4 separate regions of the Homo sapiens genome follow, and regions 2, 3 and 4 are each reported to be linked to region 1. Evidence: microRNA targets listed by miRTarBase, many of them from high-throughput screens and not tested one by one. Region 1 holds a microRNA gene; each other region holds the end of a gene's coding sequence.

Region 1 (4,259 bases):
GTGTGCAGTGCCCTGCCCAGAAATGTGTCAGTCGCCCAGATTATATGTCACTAGTTCCTTTCCAGGTAGAGTAAGGCACACCAAGTATAAGTTTGTAGTGGCCTTTGGACCCATGATAGTGTAGAGTTGCAAGAGCCTTCAGGTACCTTCCCTGAGACCAGCAGATCTTAGTTGGCCATGTGGACCTCAGGCATCCTCAAGATAAGTTAAGTGGCTTGTCCCTAACAACATGAGCACCTACAGGTTATAGATCAGAAAGGCAAGATGAAGATAATTCCTACTAGAAAAATAGAAAATGGGAACAATCTTGCTCTCTTCTGGTCCTGGCAATCATCCAGATAAACATAGAGTAGGTGAGAGATTCCTCACTTAGGGAGGCATATACCTTGGAGGGCAGTGGGCTAGACATGATCCAGGACTGATGAATAAATAAGTTCAGGGTTCAGACATCATGCTGTGCTCAGAGGAGTGATGGAAGCTACAGGTGGAGAACACGCAAGATGCGACAGCACCTCCACAATTAGCCATGTTGTGGGCAGTGCTCTACTCAAAAAGCTGTCAGTCACTTAGATTACATGTGACTGACACCTCTTTGGGTGAAGGAAGGCTCACCAAGTACACTTTTGTGGTGGTCCTCAGACTGGTGAGGGGGTAGACCTGCAAGCAACTTGAGCTGCCTTCATTGATCCCAGGAGAACCTTGGAAACCACCTGGAATTCAGGCATCGTCAAGATGATCATTTCTAACAACGTGAGCACCTACAAATTAGAGAAGGCAATGACAGAAAAGATAGTTACTTCCTAAAAGGAGAAAACAGGAACAATCTTTTCTTGTCTTGGCCATCATCCAGGTGAACATAAATCAGATAAGAAGGTCGTCACTGAGGCAGGCATGCCAAGTTGGAGGGCAGTGGGCTGGAAATTCTCTAGGAATTAAGATTAAGTTCAGGGTTCAGGCATCCTGCTGTGTTGAGTGGGGTGATGAAAGCTGCAGTGCACGATGGTGGATGATGGGGCAGCACCTCTACAATCAGACATGCTGTGGGAAGTGCCCTACTTGGAAAGGCATCAGTTGCTTAGATTACATGTAACTATTCCCTTTCTGAGTAGAGTAAGTCTTACCAAGTACAAGTTCATGGTGACCTTCGGACAGGTGATGCAGTGGAGTTGCTGGAGGCTTTAGTTGTCTTCAGTAAGGCCGGGAGATCCTAGCTGGCCACCTGAACCTTAGGTGTTCTCAAGGTGATTTCAATGATGCATTTCTAACAATGGAAATACCTATTTTTCAGAGAATAGAAAGATAGAAGAAATGAAGATACTTCCTAATAGAAGAACAGAAAACGAGCTTGTTCTCTCATGGTCCTGGCAACCATCTGGGCAAATATGGAGCAGTGAGCATGTCTCATTGAGTGAGACATGCGTCATGGAGGGCAGCAGACTGGACATTCTCCTGGACGGGGGTTGACCTTGCAAGATGGGCCAGCACCTCCGCTATCAGACATGCTGTGTGCAGTGTCCTACTTAGAAATGTGCCAGTTTCCTAGATTATACATCACTGGTTTCTTCCTTGGTAGTGTAAGGCTCAACAAGTATAAGTTTGTAGTGGCCTTTGGACCCATGATAGGGTGGAGTTTCAAGAGCCTTGAGGTACCTTTCCTGATACCAGGAGACCTTAGTTGGCCATGTGGACCTCAGGCATCGTCGAGATATTCTAAATCGTCTGTCCCTAACAACATGAACACATGCAGGTTATAGATGAGAAAGACAAGATGAAGATAATTCCTACTAGAAAAATAGAATGAGAACAATCTTGCTTTCTCCTGGTCTTGGCGATCACCCAGGTAAACATAGAGCAGGTGAGGGGTTCCTCATTTAGGGAGGCATGTACATTGGAGGGCAGTGGGTTAGACATGATCCAGGACTGTTGAATAAATAAATTCAGGGTTCAGGCATCATGCTGTGCTCAGGAGTGATGGAAGCTACAGGGGGAGAACATGCAAGATGGGACAGCACCCCCACAATTAGCCATGTTGTGGGCAGTGCCCTACTCCAAAAGGGGTCAGTCACTTAGATTAGATGTTTCCAGCTCCTTTCTGGGTAGAGCAAGATTCTCCAGGTACAATTTTGTGATGGCGTTCAGATTGGTGAGGAGACAGACCTGCAAGCACCTTCAACTGCCTTCATTGATCCCAGGAGAGATTTGGAAGCCACCTGGAACTCAGGGATCCTCAAGATGATTTTAATGATCCATTTCTAACAATGTGAGCACCTACAGGTTAGATAAGGTAATAATAGAAGAGATAAAGATACTTCCTAAAAGAAGAAGAGAGAACGGGAACAAGATTTTTTTTCTTCTCGTCTTGGCCATCATCCAGGGAAACATAAATCAAGTGAGAAGGTCTTCATTGAGGCAGGCATGCCAAGTTGGAGGGCAGTGGGCTGGAACTTCTCTAGGACTTAATAAATGTGTTCAGGGCTCAGGCAGCCTGCTGTGTTGAGGGGAGTGATGAAACCTGCAGTGCGTGATGGTGGGTGATGGGGCAGCACCTCCACTATCAGTCGTGCTGTGGGCAGTGCCCTATTCAGAAAGGTGCCAGTCACTTAGATTACATGTCACTGTTTCCTTTCTGAGTGGAGTAGGGCTTACCAAGTACAAGTGTGTGGTGGTCTTCAGACAGGCGATGAGTTGGAGTTGCTGGAGCCCTAAGTTGTCTTCAATGATGCCAGGAGATCCTAGCTGGCCACCTGAACCTCAGACATCCTCTAGATGATTTCAGTGGTTCATTCCTAATAATGAGAATACCTATATGATAGAGAAGAGAAGGATAGAAGACGTGAAGATACTTCCTAATAGAAGAACAGAAAAACAAGCTTGTTCTCTCGTGGTCCTGGCAACCATCTGGGTAAACATGAAGCCAAGTGAGAGTGCTCTTGCTGAGGGAAACATACATGATGGAGGGCAGTGGGCTGGACATTCTCTAGGATGGGGATTCACATTGCACGATGGAGTAGCCCCTCCCCATTCGTCCATAATATGTTCCAGAAAGGTGCCAGTCACTTAGATTATATGTAACTAGTTCCTCTCTGAGTGGACTAAGGCTTACCAAGTACAAGCATATAGTTGCCTGTAGACCCCTGATGTGGAGTTCCAAGGGCCTTGAGCTGCCTTCCCTGATGCCAGGAGATCCTATTTGGCCACATGGACCTCAGGCATCCTCAAGATAATTCTACTGGTGCATTCCTAATGATGTAGACTCCATCATGTTAAAGAAGAAAGTGATAGAAGAGATGAAGATACTTCCTAGTTGAAGAATAGAAAACGGGAACAAGCTTGTTTTCTCCTGGTCTGGGCAATCATCCAGGTAAACATAGAGCAGGTGAGAGGGCACTGAGGGAGACATGCAAGTTGGGGGCTTGTGGGCTGGGCATTATTTTGAACTGATGAATAAATAAGTTCAGGATTCAGGCATCATACCGTGCTCAGAGGAGTGATGAAAGCTGCAGGGTATGAAAATGCAAGATGGGGCAGCACTTCCCCTTTCGACCATGCTGTGTTCAGGGCTATTCCCAGAAAGGTGTCTGATATGGTTTGGCTGTGTCCCCACCCAAATCTCACCTTGAATCATAGTTCCCATAATCCCCATGTGTCATGGGAGGGACCCAGTGGGAGGTAATTGAATCATGGGGGCGGTTACTCCCATGCTGCTGATCTCATGATAGTGAGTTCTCACAAGATCTGATGGTTTTATAAGGGGCTTTCACCCGCTTTGCTCAACACTTCTCATTCCTGCCGCCATGTAAAGAAGGACGTGTTTGCTTCCCCTTCTACCGTAATTGCAAGTTTCCTGAGGTTTCCCCAGCCATGCTGAACTGTGAGTCAATTAAACCTCTTTTTTCAATAGAAATTACCCAGTCTTTGGTATGTCTTTATTAGCAGCATGACAATTGACTAATAGAGTGCCAGTAACTTAGATTACATGTAATTGGTTTTTTCTCTGGGTGGAATAAGAGTCACGAAGTACAAGTTTGTGGTGGCCCTCAGACTGGTGAGGGTATAGAGTTACAGGCACCTTGAGATGTCCTCATTGATCTCAGGAGATCCTTGGTGGTTAGCTAGAACTCAGTCATCCTCAAAATAAGTTTCATGGTCGTTTGCTACAATGTGAACACCTACGGGATACAGAAGATAAAGATATTTCCCAAAAGAAGAAGCGAAATCAGGAACAAACTTGTTCTCTCCTGGTCCTGGAAATCATCCAG
Region 2 (4,000 bases), not on the chromosome of region 1:
TATAGTATGCCAAAACACGAATATTATCAATATGTTTTAAGTCAATTTGATTATGGTTGTTATATGTATATTGTTTATCTTTTTCCAATGGAGTAAACCTTTCTTTGAGAACTCTGTTAGACCTTTTATGATAAATCTTGTTCCTTCCCACTTACTGTTCAATAGTATATACTCTGTATTTGAAAAATAGATGTATATATTCTAGGTGATAAATTAAAAATGAAAGAATTTAATCATTGGAAAGTATTAAATATATATTGCTTATCTTCTCCAAGGAAGAGGAGTTCTCTCGTACCCATCCAAACTGACCTAATTCTCAAGCTGCTTCATCTTGCTAGTACTGTAGGTTCATTTGCAATTTGTAGATAATGCTCCTTCAGGATTGGCTTTTGTAAATTTCTGTTAGAAGCTGGTTTCTGCATTTTGATTTTTGTGTATTTGGATACATTTTCATATAGGTTGCAGAGAAATCCATGAGTTAAAAAATTATTTTTCCTGTTTTATTTCTGCATGAACCTAAGTCACATTGACCCAGTAATTGATATATGTGTGATTATTGCAATTAAGTATAAGAAGGTAGAATATATAGTTTTATTAGACAGATGCTTCTGAAATATTAATTTTGTATGTTTTTACTATATCCTTTTTGTGTATCTACAGATACAACAGACATGCAAGAGAATGGACTCAGAAATATGCAATGTAAAAATCAAAAACATTTTCATATATACCAGAGTACTGTAAAATCTAGGTTTTTTTCAACATTAGCAGTAAATTGAGCACTGTTTACTGTTTCATTGTACCATGAAACCATTTGATTTTTACCCATTTTAAATGTGTTTCTGAAGCAAGACAAAACAAACTTCCAAAAATACCCTTAAGACTGTGATGAGAGCATTTATCATTTTGTATGCATTGAGAAAGACATTTATTATGGTTTTTAAGATACTTGGACATCTGCATCTTCAGCTTACAAGATCTACAATGCAGCTGAAAAGCAACCAAATTATTTTTTGCTGAAACTAGATGTTTTTACATGAGAAATACTGTATGTGTTGTCTAAGATGTCAGTTTTATAAATCTGTATTCAGATTTCATTCTTTGTTAGCTCACTTTATAATTTGTATTTTTTTACTGTATAGACTAAATATATTCTATTTACATGTATGTCAACTCATTACTTTTTTCCTGTGAACAGTATTGAAAAACCCCAACGGCTGATAATTAAGTGAATTAACTGTGTCTCCCTTGTCTTAGGATATTCTGTAGATTGATTGCAGATTTCTTAAATCTGAAATGATCTTTACACTGTAATTCTCAGCATACTGATTATGGAGAAACACTTGTTTTGATTTTGTTATACTTGACTTAACTTTATTGCAATGTGAATTAATTGCACTGCTAAGTAGGAAGATGTGTAACTTTTATTTGTTGCTATTCACATTTGAATTTTTTCCTGTATAGGCAATATTATATTGACACCTTTTACAGATCTTACTGTAGCTTTTTCCATATAAATAAAATGCTTTTTCTACTATTTGTCTTGATTACTTAAAAAAATAAAAATATAAGTAAGGATCAAAACTCTAAAATTTTGCATGAAAATTACATCCAAATTGTGAAAATCAGATCTATTTTGTTTGCCATTAGTCACCATTAGTTATATAAATTTTATTGTTTTAGGTTAGTATCTCTTTACTAAATTGTCAGTCTATAAGATAATATATGTTGATCCCTTGCTGTAGAGGAGAATTTAGAGTAATTTGGGGTTTGTCTTGGATTATATCTAAATGGATTATTTGTTAAAAGTACTGAAATGAGTATAAGGCAGTATCACCCATCCAAAAGAAAGGTCTTTATAGACCTGCACAGTCACTAGATTAATTCATTAAAATGCCCCCACCCTGATGTAATTGACATTACATTTCTTAACATTTTAAAATCTAGAATTTCTAAAATGGAATTTAATGCCATCACAATTTGAAAAACTTTTTTTTTTTTTTTACTATAGAAGTTACAAAGGAAGTTCTAAAATTATGCCTCCCTCTGTTTTTATAAGTTGCCATCGAAAAGTGATTTAAATAAGCAGGTTATCTTTATAGATTTTAAAGAAAACTAGAAAGTTTTAATGTTTTAACTTGGGGAAAAATACATCTCTTTAATGTTTAGCATGCTTGTCAACCTTGAGTGAGTGTCATTTTTAAGAACAGTTGTAGCCCTTCTGATTATTGCAGTAGCTGTAGAAGTATGTAAGAATATGTGATGGGTGTAGTCATTAGCAAAGCATTTAAATCACTTGAGTATTTTGTCATGGTTCATTATTATTAAAGCACAAAATAACCTATTGTTAGAAAATATGTGTTTTTATAAATGAATGTAAAATAATTAAATGAATTGTGAAATGGATGTTTAAGAAAATATAGGCTTAAAAAGTAAATCTATAAAATGATGTCTTAAAACAGCCATATCATGAAAAATTCTACTTAGCTATATTATTATAAGCTACATTTGCCCTGAATTTGAACACTCAACATCACTAGATTTAAATATTTAGTATATTTTGATAGTAAAGGGTTTTGTTTCTTGAATATCTTCACTTTAAACAAAAAAAAAAAACAACTTTCATTTGTGTGGCATTTATTTTTGGAAGTGTCTTCTTTTTTTTCTTTATTAAAGTTTTTGAAACTTGCCTAACTTGTTTGCCTTTGCTTACATCTGGATTGTACTGGACTTGAGGAGTAAGCAGAAGTTCTCATAATTAGCTAAAAACCTTGAGTTCCATAGTGGCGTCATGATCGGTCAGAACACCATTTTGGGTATATTATTTTTGCTTAACTCTAACAAGGAGAACATCAGTTACCTTTTAAAACTGTAGAATAAAAGTCAGGGCCTTTTGTGGATTAAGCATTAATTTAAGGACTTCCTTGGAGTGAGAGAAATAGGTAGTCTTTTGGGGATTTAGGATCCCACTTCTTGAAGTTGCATAGTTGAAAACCATGTTCAAATTGGATTCTGAACGCTTATAACTGCCATATACAGCAGTTACCCACATCAGTGACATGGGTTGTAAGGGGCAGCCTCACCACCATCCTCCAACTATCTCAAAAGCGTACAATTCCTGAAGTACAAGCTTTACATATATGCCTCCGTCAACCTTATTTATTAATTTTTGCATTATTTCCCTGTTTCACCCCTTTTAAACGCTGATAGGGAAAATTAAAAATTATAAATGAACTGCATATCAAGGACAACTCTAAGAGTTAACGTTCAAAAGTTACTTTTCATAAGAAAAAAATAATACATTGCAGTTTTAAATTTTTCTTATTTATCACAGTGATCTATCTAATGATTCAGTCATTGATGTTTGTCAAGATCCTGCTCTCCCACAGTTCTGTATTTTTTAAATGGAGAGATTAAGGAAATTAATTTTCCTCCCAAATTAAAAGAAATTATTGGTCATGAAACTATATCATGTCTGTTTATTGGTAGTCATTTTGAACTGTACAAAAGCCCAGCCCAGTTGATAATGCTTTAAAATTTGAGCTCTGCAGTAGAATCATCAGTCCTGTTACTCTATCTTCTTAGGACCAGCCATGAAAAATGTGATCAGTGCTTTAGCCATGGCCATAAAAACAGAGCTTCATTGTATTCAGATTGTTGAAAGTACTGTTTATCTTTGTTTGTTTCAGTCTTTTAAGTGATTATTACTACAATAAAAAATCTGATTTTTAAAAAATTAGTTTTATCACTTTTCAGCTGTAAAGTAGGATTTTCACAATTTTTTTTTCTTTAAAGCAGAGGCTTAATCACAATTTAATAGCTGTAAAATGTAATGCAGATTATTTATGAAAGGTCTTATAATGCTTCTCTTTTATTCTGATGGTTGTGTTGCACAAATAGGGCAGCAGGTAGAGTCTCATCTAATTTCACTTACAAAAGTTCTTATAGGTAGATAACTAGTCATTTCTACTCTCTCTGTTTTTGAACTGAGTAATGTGTC
Region 3 (4,000 bases), not on the chromosome of region 1:
GGCAGGAGAATTGCTTGAACCCGGGAGGCGGAGGCTGCAGTGAGCCAAGATCGCGCCACCGCACTCCACCCTGGGTGACAGAGAGAGACTGTCTCCAAAAAAAAAAAAAATGTATCTGACCTCCTTTGTTTTGCTGGTAGGTTGTAAGACCCCATTCCAGGAAGGGTTCTTTCCCCTATCCAGAAGGAAAGAATCCAGACAGGCCTCGCTGGGCTTCCCCACTCAGTCTATGAGCATTAGATCATGCCCTTCTTGTCCAGTCCTATTTCTACTCAGCTGTGCATATTTTGTTGAGCCTAAGCATAAAAATAGTTTTCCCTGTAACTTTGGGTCTTAATTCTGAAGGTTCCTTTGTCATGTAAAAGCATGACCGAATAAATTTGTATCACTTTCCTCCTATTAATCTGCCTATTTTCAGTTGAATTTTTAGAGAAACCTGAGAGCAAAGGGGAAGTTTTCCCTTACACTCCCTTACATTCCACTTGGACTTTTGAAATCAACTTCTGTTACCTTCCTTTCTGTATCACTGAAACTCCTACCTTGATTTATGTTCCCTTCTTAGCATTTACCATTATCTCTTTCTCGCCACACACACACAAACACACACACACACACACAAAACTTATTAGGTTCATCTCTGCCACCAAAATGTAAAACCCACACTAATAGGGTCTTTTCTCTATCTTCTTTATCCCAAGGACTATCACTGTAGCACACAGCAATCACTCAAATATTTGTGGGATTGATAAATGGGAATACAACTCATGCAGACTGCAGTCATCTCAAATTAAGTAAAAGACAACAGCCTGAAGCCACATTTTCAGTGAAATGATCATCACATTCTCAAAACACCTTTGACAACTTTTATAAAATGGGACTTCGGCTAGGCACGGTGGCTCATGTCTGCAATCCCAACACTTTGGGAGGCTGAGGCAGGAGGATCACTTGAGCCCAGGAGAATGAGGCCAGCCTGGGCAACATACAGGAGACTCTGCCTCTACAAAAATAATTTTTTAATTAGCTAGGCGTGGTGGTGCATGCCTGTGGTCCCAGCTACTCGGGAGGCTGAGATGAGAGGATCACTTGAGAGGTTAAGGCTCCAGTGAGCCATGTTTGTGCCACTGCACTCCAGTCCAGGTAACAAAGCAAGACCCTGTCTTTAAAAAACAAAAAATGTAGTCCCAGCTACTTGGAGAGCTGAGGTGGTAGGATCACTTGAGCCCGGGAGGTTGAGGCTTCAGTGAGCAGAGATCAAGCCAACCTGGGAACAGAGTGAGATCCTGTCTCCAAAAAAAGAAAAGGTGGGAGACTTCACAGACAGTTCTGAAAGCAAAGGCACAGGGAAATTACATATCTGTGTGTGTCTTCTGGGCTCTACTACCTACTAGTTTTCTGACCTTAAGACCCTTTCCAAGCCTGTTTTCCTCCTCACTTCCAAAATGGTTTTACCCAAGGTAATGGCAGTTTTGAAGCATGAATAAGACAGACCAAGTAAAGTGCTTAGTACTAGATCGAGACATTACACAGTACTCAAGAAATGGTAGCTACTTTTATTACCAGCAGGCCGTTAGTTTCACAGAGGAAGAACAGTTTCTACAGGTGGTGATCTAGTCTCCGGTTCCACCTTTCACTCTTTTCTGTGGCCTTGGGCAAATCATTTAATCTGTCTTTGAAGCTATTTCCCACATTCATAAACTACGTGGGCAAGTGAAAATAATTCAACCCTTTTTTCCCAAATAGAAAAATACTTAAGATTTTAGCACTGATCCATCAGAGAAGCCACACTGGAAAACCTACGCAGAAACTAAAACTTGGTACCATTCACTATCCTCAAGTTTATAGAATTAAAAAGTAACAGACGTAATAGGTATAAATACTCAGAAAACATGAACATGTCTCATGTCAAATAAGAACAGAAAGTTGGTGTGTAAAAAATGTGGATTAGCTGTCAATATATAAAACACAGAATACTGTTTTTAAAAAGAATTGTTTATTTACCGAACCTGGGGCATATTAGATACAACCAATTTTAAATTTACATCTTTTAAATCAGTTTTGAAGTGTTTCACACACACAAAAAACTTGGCATGCAACAGTTGTCCTAAGGTGAAAGTCACCTCATTAATAAACTGTTGCAAGTGTTCTCACCCAAGGTGGAAGTATGGTTTATCCTGAACATGAAAACCTGTAACAAATTTAAATTAATTATATAAAACTCGTTACTTGTAGTTTTGCCCTTGCAAAGATCCAAAAAAAAAAAAAAAAGCACAAGTAACTAATATGTATCAGTCACAACATAATCCTGGATCATCCCCATACCAAAACCGGATGCTCTTTTAATTTTAAACCCATCATCAGAGAACAAGAGAAAGTAATTTCATTTTACACAAAACAAGATTCACATGTGCCAAAAAAGAAAGACCCAAAAGAAACAAAAACCAAAACCCTAATGCTGACACTGATGGTCAGTACCCTGAACAGTGGCCCAAAGGCCACTGATCAAAAATAAAATAGTGGCTGTATATCAATGAAATGAAATCCAAGAAGCTTTAACCCTTTGGCATCAGAAATCCAGATTTTTCCAATTATGTAAATGCTTATTTCTTACATGCCAAGAGTGGGAGAAGTGAATGTGCCAATGTGGAAAGAAAAAAAGCCACCACTCACTGGGACACCCAGAGAATTGGCTTTAACAGACAATTAGGGGGTTAGGCAGAAACCCAGAAATGGTTATTAGCTGCTTGTGTCATCAATTTAAGTGGAGATGACTGAGTCCTAAGGTACAATGTAAAAATGTATGTGGGAAAATGTATGCTGAGTCGTAGTTTTAAAGCAAAACAAGAAAACAAAGTATGAAAGTACCCAGCCTGGCAGCATACACCCAAGTCAGAGAGCTCTGCCATTAGGACGGGCAGAAACCGTCAAGATTCATACTGCTGTTTCTCATAAGGACTCAACAAAAATGAATCTTTAGTGACTTGAACCATAGACTGAAGGAATCCAAAGAATGCAGTCATTTTAGTAAAGTACTATCAGGCTTTGTGCTGATTTCCTGAACAAACTGCATTATATTATGAAAACAAAAGGAAAAGAAGAAATAATAAAAACTATACTCCCATATTTCACTTACAGTGTTTGAGTTCCTGGAAGGACCTATATAATGGAGGCAGCATTCAAACAAGAAATTATGCCAATCAACTGTCAAATTTTCACTATAATTTTCCTAAAAAGGCGTTTTTCCCCCAATATCTATTAATCTCAAAGAAACATAAGTTGTGAATGTACAGTTCAGAAAATAAAAATGGAGAAACTAATGACATTATTATGACCAAGGTGTTTGGTAAACAGTGAATTCTGAGTTGGGATCATCAGGAAGAGGCTTTTTAAACAACTCTCCGGACTTCAAAAAATCTCTTCAGGTAGTAGATCTGTCCCAATGTCATGGCAACTAGAACAAGAGCTTCAAAGAAGGACCAAAGGACCACTCTGCTGTTTGTGTTGTCGTTGACTGTTGAGGACAAAACAAACAAACAAAATTTAACAATTCTCCCCCAAAAAGACATAGGCATCATAAATATTTTAGTCTTCACTCTGTGTGAAAGTAATATTGTGTACACCACTCATAGAATAGATGTTCCTCAACTTACGATGGGGTTACATCCCAATAAACCCAGCTTATGTTGAAAATACATAAGTCAAAAATATATTTAATACACCTAACCTAGCAAACATCATAGCTTAGCCTAGCCTACGTAAAACACGATCAGAACACTTACATTAGCCTACAGTTGAGCAAAAGCATCTAACAACACAAAGATTATTTTATAATAAAGTGTTGTGTATCTCATACACGTTAAACTGCATTTTATTATTATTTTCTATTTTATTTATCAAGTTAGTGAACACTGCACTGAAAGTAAAAAACAGAATGGTTGCATGGGTACTTGATGCTCAGTTTCTTCTGAATGCACATCACTTTTGCACCATCATAAAGCTGAAA
Region 4 (4,000 bases), not on the chromosome of region 1:
GGACTGCCGGGAGCTGGCCCTCCGCGGCTGCTCAGACTAGGGCTGTGTGTGCTGGCTCTCGCCTGTTTCCGGTGTCTAACTGGCTTGTTTCTCTTTATGGCTTGGCTTCATTCCGACCTGGGGTGGGGCCACATCCAACCCACTGCCCACTGGCTGTCCGTCTGGCCTGCCCCGCGGTTCCAACCACAGTGGTGAAGCAGCGCTTGCAGATGTACAACTCGCAGCACCGGTCAGCAATCAGCTGCATCCGGACGGTGTGGAGGACCGAGGGGTTGGGGGCCTTCTACCGGAGCTACACCACGCAGCTGACCATGAACATCCCCTTCCAGTCCATCCACTTCATCACCTATGAGTTCCTGCAGGAGCAGGTCAACCCCCACCGGACCTACAACCCGCAGTCCCACATCATCTCAGGCGGGCTGGCCGGGGCCCTCGCCGCGGCCGCCACGACCCCCCTGGACGTCTGTAAGACCCTTCTGAACACTCAGGAGAACGTGGCCCTCTCGCTGGCCAACATCAGCGGCCGGCTGTCGGGTATGGCCAATGCCTTCCGGACGGTGTACCAGCTCAACGGCCTGGCCGGCTACTTCAAAGGCATCCAGGCGCGTGTCATCTACCAGATGCCCTCCACCGCCATTTCTTGGTCTGTCTATGAGTTCTTCAAGTACTTTCTCACCAAGCGCCAGCTGGAAAATCGAGCTCCATACTAAAGGAAGGGATCATAGAATCTTTTCTTAAAGTCATTCTCTGCCTGCATCCAGCCCCTTGCCCTCTCCTCACACGTAGATCATTTTTTTTTTGCAGGGTGCTGCCTATGGGCCCTCTGCTCCCCAATGCCTTAGAGAGAGGAGGGGACGGCACGGCCGCTCACCGGAAGGCTGTGTGCGGGGACATCCGAGGTGGTGGTGGACAGGAAGGACTTGGGAAGGGGAGCGAGAAATTGCTTTTTCTCTTCCTCCCTGGGCAGAATGTAGCTTTTCTGCTTCACTGTGGCAGCCTCCTCCCTGGATCCTTAGATCCCAGAGGAGGGAAGAAAATTTGCAGTGACTGAAAACAGTAAAAAAAAAAAAAAAAAAAAAAAAAAAAAAAAAAAAAAAAAAAAATTTATGTATATAAAAGTTGCATTACACAGTACAAAATAGATGGATAATGTTTATCCTTTATTTTTCTATGTAGAAGTTTTTGAATTTGTGTGTGTGCTTGTGCGTGTCTACACCTAGTATTACGGCTGGGACTCTCCAGCTGTTTTTGTTGTTGTTATGTTTTTAAGAGGGTTGAATTCTTCCATCAGGTGAACGAAAAAGGCAACAAAGTAATAAATCAGTGAATGTGGCCGGCAGCTGTGTTTAGCCCCTCCAGATGGAAGTTTCACTTGAATGTAAAATAATAAAGTTTATATTTTGAATTTCTCTTTTCATGGGGGAAAAAAGGTACGTTAAAAAAATCAAAATAATGATATGTCACTTGCAGCTACCTTTTTTTTTCTTTTAAATTCAATCAGCCACCTTCATGTGCCTTTTTCCTTTGTCTTTCCCCAAAATTCCAGGACCAGAGATCTGGCCCTGGCCTATTTTCTCTTGCTGTGTACACACACGCACACATGCTGGGTGGCAGGATCTCGCCCGCTGGAGGGTGGTGGAGCCCAGTAGAATTGGGGTGACTGGGCATAAACCTGCTGAGACTGCTTCCTTCCCTGGTTGTGAGTGATGTGAATGCCTGCCTTCCCCGGTCAGCACTTAGAAGCCCTTGATAGGCAGCATTTGGCGACTTGTGGGGCAGGTGTTTGGGATAAATCCTACCTTCATCCTAGGACTTATTTCTGCATCAGCCTTTTAACTCAGGCACTTCAGGTAACGTGATCTATGTGTGTTTTGACTGAATCTCATCTCCTGTGTTTCCCTGTGCAGTCTAGGGAAGCATGTCTCCAGTCTTTGTCCCTGTCTTGTCCCAACCATTAATTCTCATGTCACAGCTTCTCACTGCATGTGACAAGAGCCAGGCCTATCTGCTAGGGCCCTGCGGCTGAGGTCTGACCTGGACCCTCATGCCCGAGTCGGAAGACCCCTCTCCAGAAGCCATTCTGCATCCTTGTCTGCTCTGCGTCACCCGAGAACACAGGCTTCGCAGCCTCGCTTTCTGAAATGGTGTGTGCCGAGTCAGATTGCCGCTCAGAGAAAATACAAGCCCGTTTTCCCTAGCTGTGCCATTTGGTGCTCTGCCAGGCTGCCGTGCAAGGGAATACCGACGAGACGAGCTGCACTGTCTCTGATTTGGAGCCCTCACCGGAGCTTGTCTTTAAAAATGAGCAGGAAGCTCATGTATGTTTGCATTTCAGTGAGCCGGGTCCTGACCTGCCGCCACCCATCACGGTCAGCGTGGTGCATCTTACCGAGGAGGCGCAGGCCTGGATTCTTTTGAGTGGTGCTACTGCCTAGGAAGTAACACGTGGAGAATTTCCATCTTGGGACCATGCACACAGTGCCTTGGGGAGTAGATTTTGCCCTAATAGCGATGAAGAATTTTATCAGTCAGTGGAGTTCCTTTTTCAGATCAGGGATGGGAAAGAGCCAAACTGGGTACCTCCCACGTGTGCCCCGTGAACAGCCCTTTGCAGCTGGGCTGTGGGGCTTGGCTGCTGCCCTGTCCCATCTGGCAGTTAACGCCTTCTCCCTGCTCTGCCCCCCACTCCCCAAAACCAGTTGCAGCCTCAACCCACATGGGGATGTAGAAAGCCGTAAAGTCCACGCTACTGTTGAAAATGTTTACATCTCCGCTCTCAACCTGCCTTGGGTTCGTGTTAAATGGTGTTAAATTCTGCAAATGGAGGGGAAAAAAATCAAATTCTAAATTTCAAAGTAGAATTTAAAGCAAATTTGTAAAAAAATTATCCTACCACCCCTTTTGGTCCACTTAAGATATGCCACGCTGAAGCAAGGTATTTCCTACTGGATTTTGCTTTCACTGGTGTTTAGAAAATAAACTTGATTTCTCTAGGAGCACTCCTTTGGTTAGAGGGATGCAAGAAGGAGAGGTGAAGGTGGCGTGTGGTGGCTCATGCCTGTAATCCCAGCACTTTGGGGAGGCCGAGGCAGGCGGATCACTTGAGGCCAGCAGTTTGAGACCAGCCTGGCCAACATGATGAAACCCCATCTCTACTAAAAATACAAAAAATTAGCTGGGCATGGTGGCAGGCACCTGTAATCCCAGTTACTTGGGAGGCTGAGGCAGGAGAATTGCTTGAACCCAGGAGGTGGAGGTTGCAGTGAGCTGAGATTGTGCCACTGCACTTCAGCCTGGGCGACAGAGTGACTCTGTCAAAAAGGAAAGGCAAAAACCGGACCCTGGAGCTCTGTGGGCCCTGATTGCAGGCCCCTCCCTGTGTGATGAGGGATGAGTCAGCTTGGGGAGCCACTTGGCCAGCCTGCATGCCTGGTCATCAGGAGGTTGAGAAAAGCCTTGAAAGTTGTGAAGCACTGAGCAGATACAAGTGTTTGTTAATTTTGTAGAAATTAACTTTCCCATCTGGCCTTTATCTCCAAAGTTGGTATTGTTGCTCCACGCAGACTGCAGTCCGGTTTCTTATTGTGACTTTGACAATGCAAAGTGCAAAATAGGAAGAGGCCTCCCCACCCCACTATCCCACCCTGGTGACCAATTCAGTGTAACCTTTGCACGTACTCAGTCATTGGTGTCTTTGGAGTGACATCTGCAGCCAGTTAGTGCCACCTGAGTACAGCACTCGTACTTTTACATGATGTGTGTGTGAGTAGCTCTTCTGTCCAAACCATGATTTGAGGTTCAACTACCTGTAGATCAAAGCTTTATTTTAGAACGATAAACTGATTTTTTCCAAATGGGTGAAATCTTCTCCCCATGACTATGTTTTCTTAACTTTGCATTGAATCTATTTACTGGGTTACATTCTATGTGTAGTTTGCTTTCTTCATTTTTTTTTCTTTTAAAATGCTCATGTCTTATTCCAAGCACCTTCCTCCAAAGT

The links. The annotated mature microRNA hsa-miR-892c-3p reads CACUGUUUCCUUUCUGAGUGGA and lies in region 1 at 2,614-2,635, shown strand. An mRNA with a match to its seed (bases 2 to 7 or 8) in the 3' UTR can be bound and repressed. Matches are read on the target gene's strand: a 7mer-m8 pairs with bases 2 to 8, a 7mer-A1 pairs with bases 2 to 7 and ends in A, and an 8mer does both.
Region 2: the mRNA of UBE2D1 is a reported target of hsa-miR-892c-3p. Seed matches in the 3' UTR shown: 7mer-A1 at 1,194-1,200.
Region 3: the mRNA of TMED2 is a reported target of hsa-miR-892c-3p. Seed matches in the 3' UTR shown: 8mer at 1,969-1,976.
Region 4: miRTarBase lists SLC25A37 as a target of hsa-miR-892c-3p. Seed matches in the 3' UTR shown: 8mer at 1,052-1,059.

What each region holds. Positions count from the first base shown.
Region 1 is chrX:145,991,136-145,995,394 of GRCh38, reverse strand. It overlaps MIR892C (microRNA 892c), which reads left to right and starts at 2,569; the gene lies at 2,569-2,645. MIR890 (microRNA 890) reads left to right here and starts at 1,044; the gene lies at 1,044-1,120. MIR888 (microRNA 888) reads left to right here and starts at 535; the gene lies at 535-611.
Region 2 is chr10:58,368,060-58,372,059 of GRCh38, forward strand. It overlaps UBE2D1 (ubiquitin conjugating enzyme E2 D1), which reads left to right. Exons shown (of 7, transcript NM_003338.5): 7 at 661-2,689. The coding sequence ends at 706. Among named protein-coding and RNA genes, the nearest start is that of TFAM, 15 kb to the right of the region's middle.
Region 3 is chr12:123,596,113-123,600,112 of GRCh38, reverse strand. It overlaps TMED2 (transmembrane p24 trafficking protein 2), which reads right to left. Exons shown (of 4, transcript NM_006815.4): 4 at 1,531-3,508. The coding sequence ends at 3,384. Among named protein-coding and RNA genes, the nearest start is that of DDX55, 4.0 kb to the left of the region's middle.
Region 4 is chr8:23,571,146-23,575,145 of GRCh38, forward strand. It overlaps SLC25A37 (solute carrier family 25 member 37), which reads left to right. Exons shown (of 4, transcript NM_016612.4): 4 at 190-4,000. The coding sequence ends at 710. Among named protein-coding and RNA genes, the nearest start is that of SLC25A37, 44 kb to the left of the region's middle.